Linked DNA regions of Homo sapiens: region 1 is linked to region 2. A link means that fine-mapping ties the variant in region 2 to the expression of a gene that starts in the linked region. Tissue or cell type: transverse colon. Region 2 holds a variant in brackets; the other region holds the start of a gene. All regions are shown on one strand. Distances are between the middles of the regions.

The links. PIP is the estimated chance that this variant, and not a neighbour inherited with it, causes the effect.
Region 1: it holds the start of EDEM2, and the variant in region 2 is fine-mapped to the expression of EDEM2 in transverse colon (GTEx, PIP 0.98).

The regions. Positions count from the first base shown.
Region 1 is chr20:35,143,482-35,151,615 of GRCh38, reverse strand. It overlaps EDEM2 (ER degradation enhancing alpha-mannosidase like protein 2), which reads left to right and starts at 4,280. Exons shown (of 11, transcript NM_018217.3): 1 at 4,280-4,464; 2 at 4,681-4,791; 3 at 6,598-6,637. The coding sequence starts at 4,358. MMP24-AS1-EDEM2 (MMP24-AS1-EDEM2 readthrough) reads left to right here. Exons shown (of 15, transcript NM_001355008.2): 6 at 4,681-4,791; 7 at 6,598-6,637. The coding sequence starts at 4,697. RefSeq lists enhancers at 4,117-4,246, 4,495-5,098.
Region 2 is chr20:35,201,019-35,209,152 of GRCh38, reverse strand. All of the region lies in intron 4 of MMP24-AS1-EDEM2 (MMP24-AS1-EDEM2 readthrough), which reads left to right. It also overlaps a transcript of PROCR not described here. Among named protein-coding and RNA genes, the nearest start is that of MMP24, 22 kb to the left of the region's middle. The variant T/AT (reference allele first, on the strand shown) is at 3,754.

The DNA.
Region 1 (8,134 bases), 58 kb after region 2:
TCTACTTATTCGGTATGAGACATTGATTAAGTTGCTAAATCTTTCTTCAATTCTTAGAATCTGTGCTTCAGGTTTTTGGTTTATAAAATGGTGATAATGACACTTTCTCAGAGGGTTGTGGTAAGGATTAATGGTGTTGATGGATGTAAAGTACAAAGAACATTACTTGCTATGTAAATGTTCGCTATTATCAATACACGTGACTATTTTCTCCTTCTTCTTCTTGTCCCCCTCCCCATCCCCCTCCTCTTCCTTGTTTAGTTGGCAAATAGTCAAATTCCATTTGGAATGCTGTCCCACTGTTTTATTCTGCTTCATGGATGTTTCTGGGGGAAATTTGTGCAGTCGATGTGTGTTGAATTCTGTTTTCTGATTTTTTGCAATAACTGTATGGATCTGTTAATATTTTCCTTGTGCTGAGAGATAGTCTCACTCTTTCATCTTCCAGATATGGAAACTGAGTCCCCAAAAGGGAAAATGACTTGCCCGAGATCACACAGAGATAGTGGATAAACAAGTAACAAGACCAAGGGTTTCCGACAACCAGTCCAAGTCTTGTTCCACTGAACACAGAGTCCGAGGACATTGGCCTCAGATACTGATGTGATCTGAGCTCCCTCCAAACTCTATTCACCCACAGGGAAGACTTGAACACCCTATGATTCCAAGTATTCTCCAATTGACATCTTCCCCTTCTAACAAAATTGCAAGCACTTCAAGGGAAAGGACTATGACTTGATTATTTTGGAATCTTAGTTATATGCTCAGCACTGTGCCTCAAACTTTTGAGGGTAGGAACTATTGCCTATAACACCTTGGATGACTCGGGGCAGATGCTCAGTAAATGGAAACAACTGCCCTGCCTTAAAAAAAAAAGAAGAGTTGGGGAGGCAGGGAAGAGAATTAATATGTATCAAGAATTTAATATATACCAGTCACTGTGCTGAGAATGTTCACTTTCATTATCCCATTTAATTCCCAGAATTCCTTTATGGCCTCATCAATTTCTGTATTTTACAATAGGAAATTGAGTCTCAGAGAGGTAGGCAACTTACCCTGAGTCTCTTCACAAGTAAATGCTCAAGTGTGACACTTCACTGGTGGGTCATAACCTTCTAGAATCCAATATCATAAACACAGAGTGAGAGAAAGAAGAGTCCTGATACTTTCCAGAGGGTAAAACAATTTTTTTATTCTCATTAGAGAACATATAGTCACATGAATTGTGAAAACGTAAGTCATGGTTTTATTTGTTCAGTGACAGTGTGGAGAATGACATCAAGCTAGAAAAAGAATATAAAGGAAAATCATGAGTGTTTCAATCTTGCTCATAAAGAGAGACCTATCGTTACCAAATCCAGGCAACCTGAACCCACCCTTCCTGCAAAAGTTTTATCCACACTAGAATTTTGAATGGGAGACAAAAAGATAAGCTATAGGATTTATAATATGGAGAAGGTGAATTTCGTCACAGGGAAAGGCCCAGGTCTGAAAAATATTTAGTCCCTGCGCTAGGCTGGAAACAGCCACCTAAAGTCCAGGTCCTAATCTCTGGAAACTGTAAATGTTTCTCTATTTGGAAAAATGGTGTTTTTTTTTTTTTTTCCCCCTAGATGTGATTAAGTTAAAAATCTTGGAATGGGAGTTTATCCTGTATTATCTGGGTTGGGGGGGGCGCGGGGGGGGTCCTAAATGCAATTATAAATGTCCTTATAAGAGAAAAGCAGAAGGAGATGTGACACATCCACAGAGAAGGCGATATGAAGGCACGGGCAGATACTGGAGTGATACAACCATAAGCCAAGGAATGCCAGCAGTCAGGAGAATCTAGAGAGGCAAGGAACGGATTATCCCTTAGAGCCTTTGGAGTGGGTGTGGCCCTGTCAATAACTTAATTTTAGCCCAGTGAAATTGATTTCAGGCTCCTGACCTCCCAAACTGCGAGAGAATAAATTTCTGTTGCTTTAAGCCACTTGGTTTGTGGTAATTTGTTGCAGGAATCACAGGAAACGAATACAGTGCTCCTGTGTTGTTATCCAGGTCTCAGCTTACTGTCATCTCCTTTCCCTTCCATTTGGAAGCCCCAAGAAGAGTTTCTTTTTTTTTTTTTTTTTTGAGACAGAGTATCGCTCTGTCTCCCAGGCTGGAGTGCAGTGGCCTGATCTTGATCTTGGCTCACTACAACCTCCACCTCCCGGGTTCAAGCGATTCTCCTGCCTCAGCCTCCTGAGTAGCTGGGACTACAGGCGTCTGCCACCACTCCCGGCCAATTTTTGTATTTTTAGTAGAGACAGGGTTTCACCATATTGGCCAGGTTGGTCTTGAACTCCTGACCTCGTGATCCGCCCGCCTTGGCCTCCCAAAGTGCTGGGATTACAGGCGTGAGCCACTGCACCCGGCCAAGAAGAGTTTCTAAAAACATCCCAGGCTGGGTACAGTGGCTTATGCCTGTAATCCCAGCACTTTGGGAGGCCTGGCTGCACTCTGGCTCAACAAACTGAGCTATCACTTCCATCTGACTTTTTCAGCAAATAAGAGATAGCCAATCCTAGAATCATAGAAAGCTCGACCGAAAAGGATCTTAAAGATCCATTTGTTCAAACTCCTCATTATTTATAGACAAGGATGCTAGCCCCAGAGAAGGAGAGGGTCACATACACAGGTTATAGATGAGTGACAGAGTTGTAATTAACTGGATCCTAGATCTGACTTCAAATCCAGTGTTGGTTCTACCGCATGTCACACTGACCAAAGTCATGGGTGTTGCTGTGGTCTAAGGTGCTGACCAAATTTTAGAAACTTGGGAATAAGGGGAATGGAGAAATGGATCACAAACCTCCTGAAAGCTATAGTGCCCCAGGGTAGTCATTTGTCTTTTTTTTTTTTTTTTTTTTTTTTTTTTTGATATGGAGTTTTGCTGTTTTGCCCAGGCTGGAGTGGAGTGGCGCGATCCTCGCTCACTGCAACCTCCGCCTTCCGGTTTCAAGCGATTCTCCGGCCTCAGCCTTCCGAGTAGCCGGGATTTACAGGCACCCGCCACCACCCCTGGCTAATTTTTGTATTTTTAGTAAAGACGGGGTTTCACCATGTTGGCCAGGTTGGTCTCTATCTCTTAACCTCAGGTGATCCACGCACCTCAACCTCCCAAAGTGTTGGGATTACAGGCGTGAGCCACCGCGCCCAACCAGGGTATTCATTCTTACCCAAGACATTCTACAGGGCTGACAGGGGTAAAGCTTCCGGTTTGAGATGGAGACTGAAGGGACCATGATTGTGTAACCACATCCCAAATTGGGAGGAGAGAAGTGTCATGAATTCCTAGAACTGACGGGATTTCAGGAAACCTCAAGAGTGACAGCATCGGAAAATGCAAGAGGTTTTAAAAAAAAAAGAGTGGAAGTTTTGGACAAATAAATGTGAGTTGTGTCTTATACAATCAACAAGTAACTGGTTTGGGAAACTCAATATCCCTAAATAAGGGAGCAGACCACCCCTCATATTGTCTTATGCCCAATTTCTGCCTCAAAGAAAATGTAGGAGTTAAAAGAAAGACAGAAGTGAAATCAGTAGTCAGACAGCCCGGCGATGCATTCCAGGCCTGGTAATTAAAGATCGACCCCTCCTGACCTAACCGGTTATATTATCTATAGATTCCAGACATTGTATGGAAAAGCATTGTGAAAATCCCTGTCCTGTTCTGTTCCGTTCTGATTACCGGTGCACCGGTAATCAGTCACGTACCCCCTGCTTGCTCAATCAATCACGACCCTCTCACGCGGACCCCCTTAGAGTTGTAAGCTCTTAAAAGGGACAGGAATTGCTCACTCGGGGAGCTCCGTTTTTGAGAAGTGAGTCAGCTGACGCTCCCGGCCGAATAAAGCTCCTTCCTTCTTTAACCCGGTGTCTGAGGAGTTTTGTCTGCGGCTTGTCCTGCTAGGTAATAATGGTAAAGGCTGAACATTTCTCATGCTTACCCTGCCTTCATACTTAATAAGGTTGTTGAAAAAAATGAATGAGAGAATGCATTTTAAATGCTCCGTACAGTACTAGTACACAATAAGTGCTCAATACATGCTAGCTGTTATTATTAAAACATTAATTAATAACAGTAGTAACAACAGCCACTGACTTTAAGACACGTTGATCAGTGTTGCCGAAACCGTACATCCGAAGTTGCTCTTCGGCCGCGTTTCGCTGCCCATTGCATTCAGGGGCTTGTAGTCCGGAAGTGAGAGGCTGATTTCTCAGCGCGCAGGCGCAGTGGCGCGGATTCCCGGAAGAACCCGCAGCAGCTCCCAGGATGAACTGGTTGCAGTGGCTGCTGCTGCTGCGGGGGCGCTGAGAGGACACGAGCTCTATGCCTTTCCGGCTGCTCATCCCGCTCGGCCTCCTGTGCGCGCTGCTGCCTCAGCACCATGGTGCGCCAGGTCCCGACGGCTCCGCGCCAGATCCCGCCCACTACAGGTGAACTGTGACCCGCCCTTTCGCAGTTGGGGAATGGGAAGCGTGAACCCGGTCCTTTCCCTTTCCGTCCATCCCAGACCCCGACTTGCTCCGACACAGCCGCTAGGTCCCAGGGAGAAATCAGCTAGTGATTCCCACTTTCCGCCCTGTATCTTGTTCTTCCCCCGCTTGTTTTTGTGTTCTTGCCCCATGCCTGATTTCTCGTCCCCCACCCAGGGAGCGAGTCAAGGCCATGTTCTACCACGCCTACGACAGCTACCTGGAGAATGCCTTTCCCTTCGATGAGCTGCGACCTCTCACCTGTGACGGGCACGACACCTGGGGCAGGTAGTGCGAGCGGAGGGGCAAGGGGCGGCCAGGGTCTGACTCTCTGGGCCTCGGCGGGCGGGTCAGCTGGGGCTGGTGGCTTCATGGTCTCCTCACCGGCACCAGAAAGCTCCCAGCTGAGCTAGAGCCGCGCTCCCCGCAATTCTTACTATCACCTCCAGGATCCACTTAGCCTCTCGCAGTGAAAAAAAAAGTCCTGGATTAGCCGGGTGGGCTGGATCGCTGAGCTCAGCCCCAGCAGTAACAGGCATCAGCTGTGGGGACATAGGCAATTTCTGGAGTAACGAGATACCGTGGAAGGGCTCCAAGAATTAGAAAACCCACCCCTTTCATTATGTAGGTGGGCATTCAGATCCAGGAAGGAGTGTGACACTCCTAAAACTTAAGTCTTTGTAGTTGGTGTGCCCCGTGCCTGAAATACACTCCCCATTTTCCTCCCATCACTGGCTGCTGCTTGTCATTCAGATCTCAGCTCAGTATCTTAATACCCCTACGAGTTAGGTGCCATTATCCCTGTTTTACACACGAATGTGCTAAGGTCGGGAGAAATTAAACTCAAAACTTGTGATGGTTTTTATTTTTTTAAGTTGAAACAAAGTAAATACAAATGGCAAATTCAAGTGGTAAAAGATTATATACAATAAATATCTCCCATACCCTAGAATTCCAACTATTAACTTTCCTTTGTATCTGTCCAGAAATATTCTTGGTTTATACCATTATATATATAGATGTGTGTATGTGTATCTTTTTAAAATGAACTTCTTAAAGGCATAATTTACATATAATAAAATACACTCTTTTTTTTTTTTTTTTTTTTTTGAGATGGAGTTTCGCTCTTGTTACCCAGGCTGGAGTGCAATGGCGTGATCTTGGCTCACTTCAAACTCCGCCTCCTGGCTTCAAGCGATTCTCCTGCCTCAGCCTCCCAAGTAGTTGGGATTACAGGAGCCCACCACCACACCCGGCTAATTTTTTTGTGGAGACGGGGTTTTGTCATTTGGCCAGGCTGGTCTTGAACTCCTGACCTCAGGTGATCCACCCACCTAGGCCTCCCAAAGTGCTGGCGGATTACAGGCATGAGCCACTGTGCCCAGCCTACACTCGTTTGAAGTGACCACCATCACAGTCAAGATATGAAACACTTCTGTCACTTTAAAAAGTTCCCTTGTGGCCCTTTATAGTTCATCCCTGCACCACCACTGACCCTAACAATTGCTGTCTGCTTTCTGTCAGCATGTCTTTTTGAAACAGATGGAAACATACTAAACCACCCTGACTTTTTCATTAAAAACAATTCGAATGTCTTTCCATCAGCACATAGAAGTCTTGATAACAATCTTTTTGATAACTCATAGTTTTGCACTGTTTATAACACAGTTTAATCACCCATTAATGGGTGGACAGTTGGGTTCTTTCCAGCCTCTTGCTGTTCTAAGCAATACTGCCATGAACACTCTCAAACAGCTGTTCACTGTGAATTAAATTCCTAGAGGTGAAAATTGGTGAAAGGCCTGTGCTTTAAGCTGCAATCTTATACTGCCTCCCAATGGTAGAGGAGAATGCCAGACTATAGGTGATGTATTTAATTACAATTGAGCTACATCAGCCAACCCTCCCAGGTGCATTAAGTGGGTCAGAGAATACCTGCGATTTTCACTGTGGTTTCTCTGTTGTGACTGTAAGTGGGACAGGCAGAGGCATTACTTTGCCTCATTTAGTTTTAGGGGGATCAGATCTAGGGCAGCCATAATATCTGGTATTTGATTTTCTTACTAAGCGGCTGGGATTTCTGTCCTTTTGCAGTTTTTCTCTGACTCTAATTGATGCACTGGACACCTTGCTGGTAAGTATCTCGTCTGTTTCTTTTCCTTTCCACTGTTACATAACCAACATCCTTCCTCTTTTGGCAGCGTGACTGTGGGTGAAAAATGAATTCCTCTCCTAGGCCTTTTATTTGCATCTCATGATTCTGAAGCGTCCGGCTGTGGTTGCCTAGCTAGATAGGGGAAAAACGAACTACAACTTATGCAGATTCATTTATTTAGCAAACATTTATAGAGGACCTGTTATGTACGGAGAATTGTGATAGGCTTGCATAGCTCTATGGGGGATACAGAGACTTTGACATCTCCTGTTTTCAGAGGCTTACATTCTAGTGGCCATGTTCAATGATAATAAAAGGGTATCAGGCTGAGCATGGTGGCTCACACCTGTAATCCCAGCACTTTGGAAGGCCGAGGCAGGCAGATCACCTGAGGTCAGGGGTTTGAGACCAGCCTGGCCAATATGGTGAAACTCCATCTCTATTAAAATACAAAAAATTAGCCCAGCATAGTGGCACATGTCTGTTATCCCAGCTACTGGAGAGGCTGAGGCAGGAGAATTGCCTGAACCCGGGAGGCGGAGGTTGCAGTGAGCCGAGATTGCACCATTGCACTCCAGCCTGGGTGACAAGAGTGAAACTTCATCTCAAAAAAAATTATAAAGAAATAATATCAGTGACTAGTTAGTATGTTTCTGTAGGGCTTAGTACAGACATGTATTAATTCTTCTAACAACTTCTTGAGGTTAGTACCTTTACTCCTTCTTATCGTTAAGAAACCTGATGCTTAGGGATGGGCACAGTGGCTCACGCCTGTAATCCCAGCACTTTGGGAGGCCAAGGCGGCAGGACTGCTTGAGCACAGGAGTTCAAGACCAGCCTGGGCAATATGGTGAAACCCCGTCTCTACCAAAAATATAAAAAATTAGGCATGATGGCACATGTCTGTGGCTCCATTTGTTAGGGAGGAGGGTGAGGTAGGAGGATTGTTTGAGTCAGGGAGGCAGAGGTTGCAGTGAGCCGAGATCGCACCACTGCACTCTGGTCTGGGTAACAGAGTAAAACCCTGTCTCACACAAACAAAAAAAAGATATAAAAGAAACCTGATGCTTAGAAAGGTAAAAAGGGCCAGGTGTGGTGGCTCATGCCTGTAATCCCAGCACTTTGGGAGGCCAACATTGCTCAAGTCCCAGAGTTCGAGGCTGTGATGAGCTATGATCACACCACTGCACTCCAACCTGTGTAACAGAGCAAGACCCTGTCTCAAAAAAAAGACTTGGACTGGTTCAGGTCAAGTACCCACTCCACAGCTAGAGGGATGGGATCAGCCTCTCCCAAACCACAGGAGTGACTGCCGGGGAAGAGTGATTCCTCGAGGGTAAATTGAGATGTTACTATCAAAAGAAGAGAGATTGAGATTGCATTTGGCTAACGGTTTAAATAAAGAGGGTTTATTTTCTCAAGTAAAAGAAAGTCTAGAGGTAATTTCTAGCATTGGGTCAGCTACGCAACTGTGTC
Region 2 (8,134 bases):
ATTCTATACCCTCATATAGCACCTTGTACTTCATAGTATTTATTCAAACTGTAATTAAGTAATTATTTTGTGTAATTCTGTCTCCCCCTCTACACCATAAGCTCCATGAACACAAGGACAATACCTGCTTATTTCTGGCATATAGTAGGCTCTCAATTAATATTTGTTTATTTATTTTTTGGGGATGGAGTCTTGCTGTATCACCCAGGCTGGAGTGCAGTGGTGTGATCTCGGCTCACTACAGCCTCCGCCTCCTGGATTCAAGCAATTCTCCTGCCTCAGCCTCCCGAGTAGCTGGTATTACAGGTGCGTGCCACCATGCCCGGCTAATTTTAGTATTTTTAGAGGTGGGGTTTCACCATGTTGGCCAGGCTGGTCTTGAACTCCTGGCCTCAAGTGATCCACCTGCCTCGGCCTCCCAAAGTGCTGGGATTACAGGCGTGAGCCACCACGTCCAGCTGAATATTTGCTAAATGAACAAATGTAAGCACTATTTATAGTGTCGTAGTCTTTCCAGTGTTGTGTAGTGTTCTGCTGTGTGTTTTTGTGATTTAAAACCTATTGCTATGTTCACGGTAGGGGGCAGCAGAGTACGCGGATACTGAGAGAGTCCAGTACTCAGTATTAAAAGGGCAACTTCAGATAAATGACTTAACCTTTCTGAGACTATTTCCTTCTCTGGAAGTCAGGGTTAAGTCTCCTTCCCTTGGATCAAAAGAGATAAGCAGATGTAAAAGGGCTTCACTGCAGGACAAACAGGAGACAATGTGATTAGAGTCAGTTAAGATAAATATTTGTTGAATAAACAGACACAGAGCAAGAGGATTTTGGCTATACGACTGTGGAACAGATTGCAGTAGAGAGTTGACAGATTCCGAAGAGAGAAAATGAAAGCTCCAGGAAGAGACTGGCCTATGCCCAGAGCCAGCCTGTGAAGTCAGCACAGGATGTCCTTGGCATGCTGTCATCTCTGCTCCCTGATCATTGCCCTCCACCTCTACCTCTGGCCTCTAGTTTCCCATCGCTGTGCTGCCGGCTTTTCCTTCCCTTCTCTCCCATCAAAGCACATCTGTCCTATGTCCTGGCCACTCCCAGGCCTGCTCACTGCCATCCACAGTCACTGCTAGTTAACCCAATAAATGGATTCTCACTAAAGTGCCCAGGGCAGGTAGTGTATTATTTTACCATTCTCAATAACACGAATTGGACCTTCTTGAGACGGAATAACTTACTCAAAAATTATGTTTCAAATAATAATAAAGTTTAGGTTTTGTGGAAGGAGAGGAAATGGAAGGTTAACAGAGATGAAGACAGTCCTAACTTGACCGGGCGTGGTGGCTCACACCTGTAATCCCAGCACTTTGGGAGGCCAAGGCAGGCAGATCACCTGAGGTCAGGAGTTCGAGACCAGCCTGACCAACATGGAGAAACCCCGTCTCTACTAAAAATATGAAAATTAGCCAGGTGTGGTGGTGAGCGCCTGTAGTCTCAGCTACTCGGGAGGCTGAGGCCAGAGAATCACTTGAACTTGGGAGGCAGAGGTTGCAGTGAGCCGAGATCATACCACTGTACTCCAGCCTGGGCAACAGAGTAAGACTCCATCTCAAGAAAAAAACAAAACAAAACAGTCCTAACTAATTTCAGGCTCAAGAAAGAATAATTGTACAAATACAAAATCTGTGAGATATGACTTGATAGTAATATGAGGGGAAAAAGCTTTTAAAAATATTCATATGTGTATATATATATATATATATATACACAAACATACACATAATAGATTTGCATACATATAATTTAATTGTAATTTACATTCAGTAAAATTTACATTTTGGTGTAGAGTTCTGTGAGTTTTGACAAATGCAAAGAATTATGTAAACACCACCACACACAAACAAAAAAATAAAACAGTTAATCACCTTCCCAAATTCCCTTTTGTTACCCCTTTGTAGTCAAAGCCTTCCCTACCCTTAAGCCCTGGCAACACTGATATGTTCTCTATTCCTATAGTTTTTTCTTTTCCAGACTGTCATATAAAATGGAACCATACAATATGTTGTATTTTGAATTTGGCTTCTTTCACTTGGCATAATGGATTTAAGATTCATCCATGTTGTTGAGTGTATCAGTAGTCAATTCCTTTTCATTGCTGAGTAGTAGTGTATTGTATGGATGTACCACAGTTTGTTACTCCACTTCCCAGTTGAGGAATATTTAGGTTGTTTCTAGTTTTGGCAATTATGAATAAAGCTTCTGTAAACATTCACGTACAGGTTTTGGTATGAACATAAATTTTCATTTTACTTGGGCTAATTTCTAGGAGGGATTGTTGGAGCCTATGGTAAGTGTGTGTTTAACTTTATAAGAAACCTAGAGGGGCTGTATCATTTTGTTTTCCCACCAGTAATTTATGAGAGTGGCAGTTGTTCCGCCTTCTCACCAACAATTGGTATTGTCAGGGATTTTTTTCAATTTCAATAGGTGTATAGACATACCTTACTGTGGTTTTAATTTGCAATTCCCTACCAACAAATGATGTTGAGCATATTTTCAAATATTTATTTGCCATCCATGTATCTTCTCTGGTGAGGTGCCTGTTCAAAACTTTTGCCTTTTTAAAAAATTGTTTGTTTTCTTATTTCTGAGTTTTGAGAGTTTTTTTTTTTTTTTTTTTTTTTGAGATAGAGTCTCACACTGTTGCCCAGGCTGGACTGCAGTGACGCCATCTTGGCTTACTGCAACCTCTGCCTCCCGGGTTCAAGTGATTGTCCTGCCTCATTCTCCTGAGTAGCTGGGATTACAGGTGCCTGCCACCATGCCTGGCTAATTTTTTTGTATTTTTAGTAGAGACGAGGTTTCACTATGTTGGCCAGGCTGGTCTTGAACTCCTGACCTCGTGATCCGCCTGCCTCAGCCTCCCAAAGTGCTGGGATTACAGGCATGAGGCACTGCGCCCTACTGAGGGTTCTTTATAAATTCTAGGCCAGGCACAGTGGCTCATGCCTGTAGTCCTAGTGCTTTGGGAGGCTGAGCAGGAGGATCACTTGAGGTCAGAAGTTTGAGACCAGCCTGGGCAACATACAAAAATCCTGTCTCTACCAAAAATAAAATAAAATAAAATTTTTTAAAAATGTTAAAAAATAAATTCTGGATTCAAGTCCTTTGTTAGAAATGTGATTTGCGGTCAAGTGCAGTGGCTCACACCTGTAATCCCAGCACTTTGGGAGGCCGAGGTTGGGGGGGGGATCACCGGAGGTCATACACATATATACATATATACATGTATACATATGTATATGTATACATGTATATATGTATATGTAGATATATGTATATATGTACATATATATGTGTGTATATATACATATATATATATATATATATATATATATATATATATTTAGACAGAGTTTTGTCCTTGTTGCCCAGGCTGGAGTGCAATGGCATGATCTTGGCTCACTGCAACCTCCACCTCCCAGGTTCAAGCAATTCTCCTGCCTCAGCCTCCCGAGTAGCTGGGATTACAAGCATGCACCACCACACCCGGCTAATTTTGTATTTTTAGTGGAGACGAGGTTTCTCCACGTTGGTAAGGCTGGTCTTGAACTCTGGACCTCAGGTGATCCGCCTGCCTCGGCCTCCCAAAGTGCTGGGATTATAGGTGTGAGCCACTGCGCCCGGCCAATATATATATATATTTTTGGATTAACGAAGTTTCCTTCTCTAGTTTGCTGAGAGATTTTTTTTTTTTTA[T/AT]CATGAATGGGTTTTAAATTTTGTTAATGCATTTTCTTCATCAGTTAGGATTATCATGTGTTTTTTTCTTCCTTAGTCTGCCAATATGGTGAATTATGCTCATTTATTTATTATTATTATTATTATTGAGATGGAGTCTTGCTCTGTCCCCCAAGCTGGAGTACAGTGGTGCGATCTCAGCTCACTGCAACTTCCACCTCCCGGGTTCAAGCAATTCTCCTGCCTCAGCCTCCCAAGTAGCTGGGACTACTAGTGCACACCACCATACCCAGCTAATTTTTGTATTTTTAGTAGAGACGGGGTTTCACCACGTTGGCCAGGCTGGTCTCAAACTCTTGACCTCAGGTGATCTGCCCGCTTCACCCTCCCAAAGTGCTGGGATTACAGGCGTGAGCCACCATGCCTGGCTATTTTTGAATGTTACACCAGCATTAAATTACCTGGGATAAACTCCACATAGTAGTGAAGTATTATTTTTTAAAAATATATATATATTTCTGGATTCCTTTGCTAATAGTTTGTAGTTTGTTGAAGTTTTGGGGTATATGTTCATGTGAAGTATTGTTCTATAGTTTTCTTGTTATCTTTTTCAAATTTTGGCATCAGGACCATGCTGCCTTCATAAAATGAGCTAAGTTTTTTTGATTTTCTGGAAGAGTTTGTGTGGAATTGATACTATTTCTTTCTTTAACATTTGGTAGAATTTCCCAGTGAAACCATTTGGGGGCCAGGCATGGTGGCGCATGCCTGTAATCCCAGCACTTTGGGAAGCTAAGGCAGGCAGATTGCTTGAGCCAGGAGTTCGAGACCAGCCTGGGCAACATGATGAAAACCCATCTCTACTAAAAATACAAAAAAATTTGCTGGGTGTGGAAGTCTTGGCTGCAGTGAGCTGTGATTGCACCACTGTACTCCAGCCTGAATAACAGGAGTGAGTCCCTGCCACAAAGAAAAGAAAGAAAAGGAAAGAAAAGAAAAGAGAAAAGGAAAGAAAAGAGAGAAGGAAGGAAGGAAGGAGGGAGGGAGGGAGGGAAGGAGGGAGGGAGGGAGGAAGGAAGGAAAAGAAAAGAAACCTTCTGGGCCTGGAGTTTTCTTCTCTACATTGGAAGGTTTTAAACTATGAATTAAATTTTCTTTAGTACATTTAGGACTATTTCTCTGATCTGTTTCTTCTGGACTGAGTTTAGGTAATTTGTGTCTTTCAAGAAATTGGTCCATTTCCTCTAAGTTGTCAAACTTATGAGCATAGAGTTGTTTGTAATATTCTCTTATTATCCTTTTAATATCTGGAGGGTCTGAAGTGACATCCCCTCTTTCATTCCTGATATTAGTAATTTATGTCTTCTCTCTTTCTTTTCCTTGGTAAATCTGTCAAAAAGTTTATGAATTCTGTACACCTTTTCAAAGCTTTTGGTTTTATTGATTGTTCTCTATTTTTTTCTGTTTTCAATTTCATTGAATTCTGCTTTTCTAATTTCTTTTTCTTCTGCTTGATTTAGGTTTAATTTGTTCTTTCTCTAGTTTCTTAAGGTAGAAGCTTAGAGTATGATTTGAGGCCTTTCTTTTTTCTATCATAGGCATGTAAAGCTATAAATGTTCCTGTACACGCTGCATTAGCTGCAACCCATAAATTTTGATATGTTTTGTTTTGATGTTCAGTCAGTTCAAATATTTTCTGATTTACTTTAAGATTTTTTCTCTGACCCATGGATTATTTAGAAGTATATTAACAATTTCTAAATATTTGAGAGTTCTCTTTTTTTTCTTTTTTTTCTTTTTTTTTGAGACAGAGTCTTGTTCTGTTACCCAGGCTGGAGTGCAGTGGTGCGATCTCAGCTCACTGCAACCTCCACCTCCTGGATTCAAGCAATTCTCCTGCCTCAGCCTCCTGAATAGCTGAGATTACAGGCGCGCACTATCACGCCCAAGAGTTCGTCTAAAAAGAAAAACAATAATAAATAAAAGTTATGTTTATACTATATTATAGTCTAATAAATGTGCAATAACATTATGTCTAATAACATTAGACATTGCATACAATGTTATGCAATGACATTTTGTATTTTTAGTAGAGACAGGGTTTTGCCATGTTGGTCAGGCTGGGGGAGTTTTCTATTATTGATTTCTTATTTAATTTTGGTATAGCCAGAGAACACCATTTATGTGGATGATCTCGGCTCACCACAACCTCTGCCTCCTGGGTTCAAGCGGTTCTCCTGCCTCAGCCTCCCGAGTAGCTGGGATTACAGGCATGTGCCACCATGCACGGCTAGTTTTGTATTTTTAGTGGAGATGGGGTTTCACCATGTTGGTCAGGCTGGTCTTGAACTCCCGACCTGAGGTGATCCACTGCCTCAGCCTCCTAAAGTGCTGGGATTACAAGTGTGAGCCACCACGCCCGGCCTTGTGTGGTTTTAATTTATTAAAAATTGTTAAAGTTTACTTTATGACCCAGAATATGATCTATCTGGGTATATGTTCTGTGGGCACTTGGAAAGAATATGTATTCTGTTGCTCTTGAGTAGAGTGTTTTATAAATGTCCGTTATATTAAACCAGTTGATAATGTTATCCAGGTTTTATATATCCTTTTTGATTTCCATCTATTTGTTTATCAGTTATTGAGAACAGAGTTATTGAAGTCTCCCAGTTATGACTGTGGATTTTTCCATGTCTCTTTTAGTTCTATCAATTTTTGCTTCATTTATTTTGGATCTTTGTTAGTTGCATACTATATTTCAGTGTTTATCTTCTTGGTGAATTGACCCTTTTATCATTATGTAACTTCCCTATATTTATATCTTTATATTTAAAATAGATTTCCTTAAACCATAAGACATTTGAGAAGTAAAAATAAAATAAAATAGCTTTCTTGCTGATAGCATATAGTCGGGTCTTGTTTTTTTCTTTTTCCAATCCGATAATCTTTGTCTTTTTTTTTTTTTTGGAAATGGAATCTTGCTCTACCACCTGGACTGGAATGCAATGACGTGATCTCAGCTCACTGCAGCCTCCACCTCCCAGGTTCAAGCAATTCTCCTGCCTCAGCCTCCCGAGTAGCTGGGATTATAGGCACCCGCCACGATGCCCAGCTAATTTTTGTATTGTTAGTAGAGACGGGGTTTCACCATGTTGGTTAGGCTGGGGGAGTTTTCTATTATTTATTTCTTGTTTAATTTTGGTATAGCCAGAGAACATGCTTTATGTGGTTTTATTAAAAATTGTTAGTTTATTTTATGACCCAGAATATGATCTATCTGGGTATATGTTCTGTGGGCACTTGGAAAGAATATGTATTCTGTTGTTCTTGGGTAGAGTGTTTTTTGTAAATGTCCATTATATTAAACCAGTTGATAACGTTATCCAGGTTTGATATATCCTTTTTGATTTCCATCTATTTGTTTATCAGTCATTGAGAATGGACTTATTGAGTCTCCCAGTTATGACTGTGGATTTTTCCATATCTCTTTTAGTTCTATCAATTTTTGCTTCATTTATTTTGGATCTTTGTTAGTTGCATATTATATTTCAGTGTTTATCTTCTTGGTGAATTGACCCTTTTATCATTATGTAATTTCCCTATATTTATATCTTTATATTTAAAATAGGTTTCCTTAACATTTGAGAAGTAAAAATAAAATAAAATGTAATAGCATATAGTTGGGTCTTGTTTTTTTCTTTTTCCAATCTGATGATCTTTGTCTTTTTTTTTTGAAATGGAATCTTGCTCTGCCGCCCAGGCTGGAATGCAATGGCATGATCTCAGTGCACTGCAACCTCCGCCTCCCAGGTTCAAGCGATTCTCATGCCTCAGCCTCCCGAGTAGCTGGGATTACAGGCATGCACCACCTTGCCCGGCTAATTTTTGTATTTTTAGTAGAGGTGGGGTTTCACCATGTTGGCCAGGCTGGTCTTGAACTCCTGACCTCAGGTGATCAGCCCACCTCGGCCTCCCAAAGTGCTGGGATTGCAGGCGTGAGCCACCGCACCCAGCCATCTTTGTCTTTTAATTGGTGTGTTTAGACCATTTACATTTTTAAAGACCATTTACATTTAATGTAGTTATTGATAAGAGTGGATTTTGGTCTACAATTTGTTATTTTTCTGCTTGTCTCCTCCATTTTTTTGCCTCTCAATGTCCCCTTTCCTGTTATATTTTGGATTATTTGAATATGTTTTATATTCCAATTTAATATATTGGTTGTCTATATCTTTTGTGGTTTTTTTTTTTTAGCTGTTGATCTAGGGATAATAATACACATACCTAATTTTAACAGTCAACTTAAAATCAATGTTTTAACACTTCAAGTAAAACACTGACATCTCACAACTACAGGCATACCTTGGAAATATTGCAGGTTCAGTTCTAGACCACTTCAGTA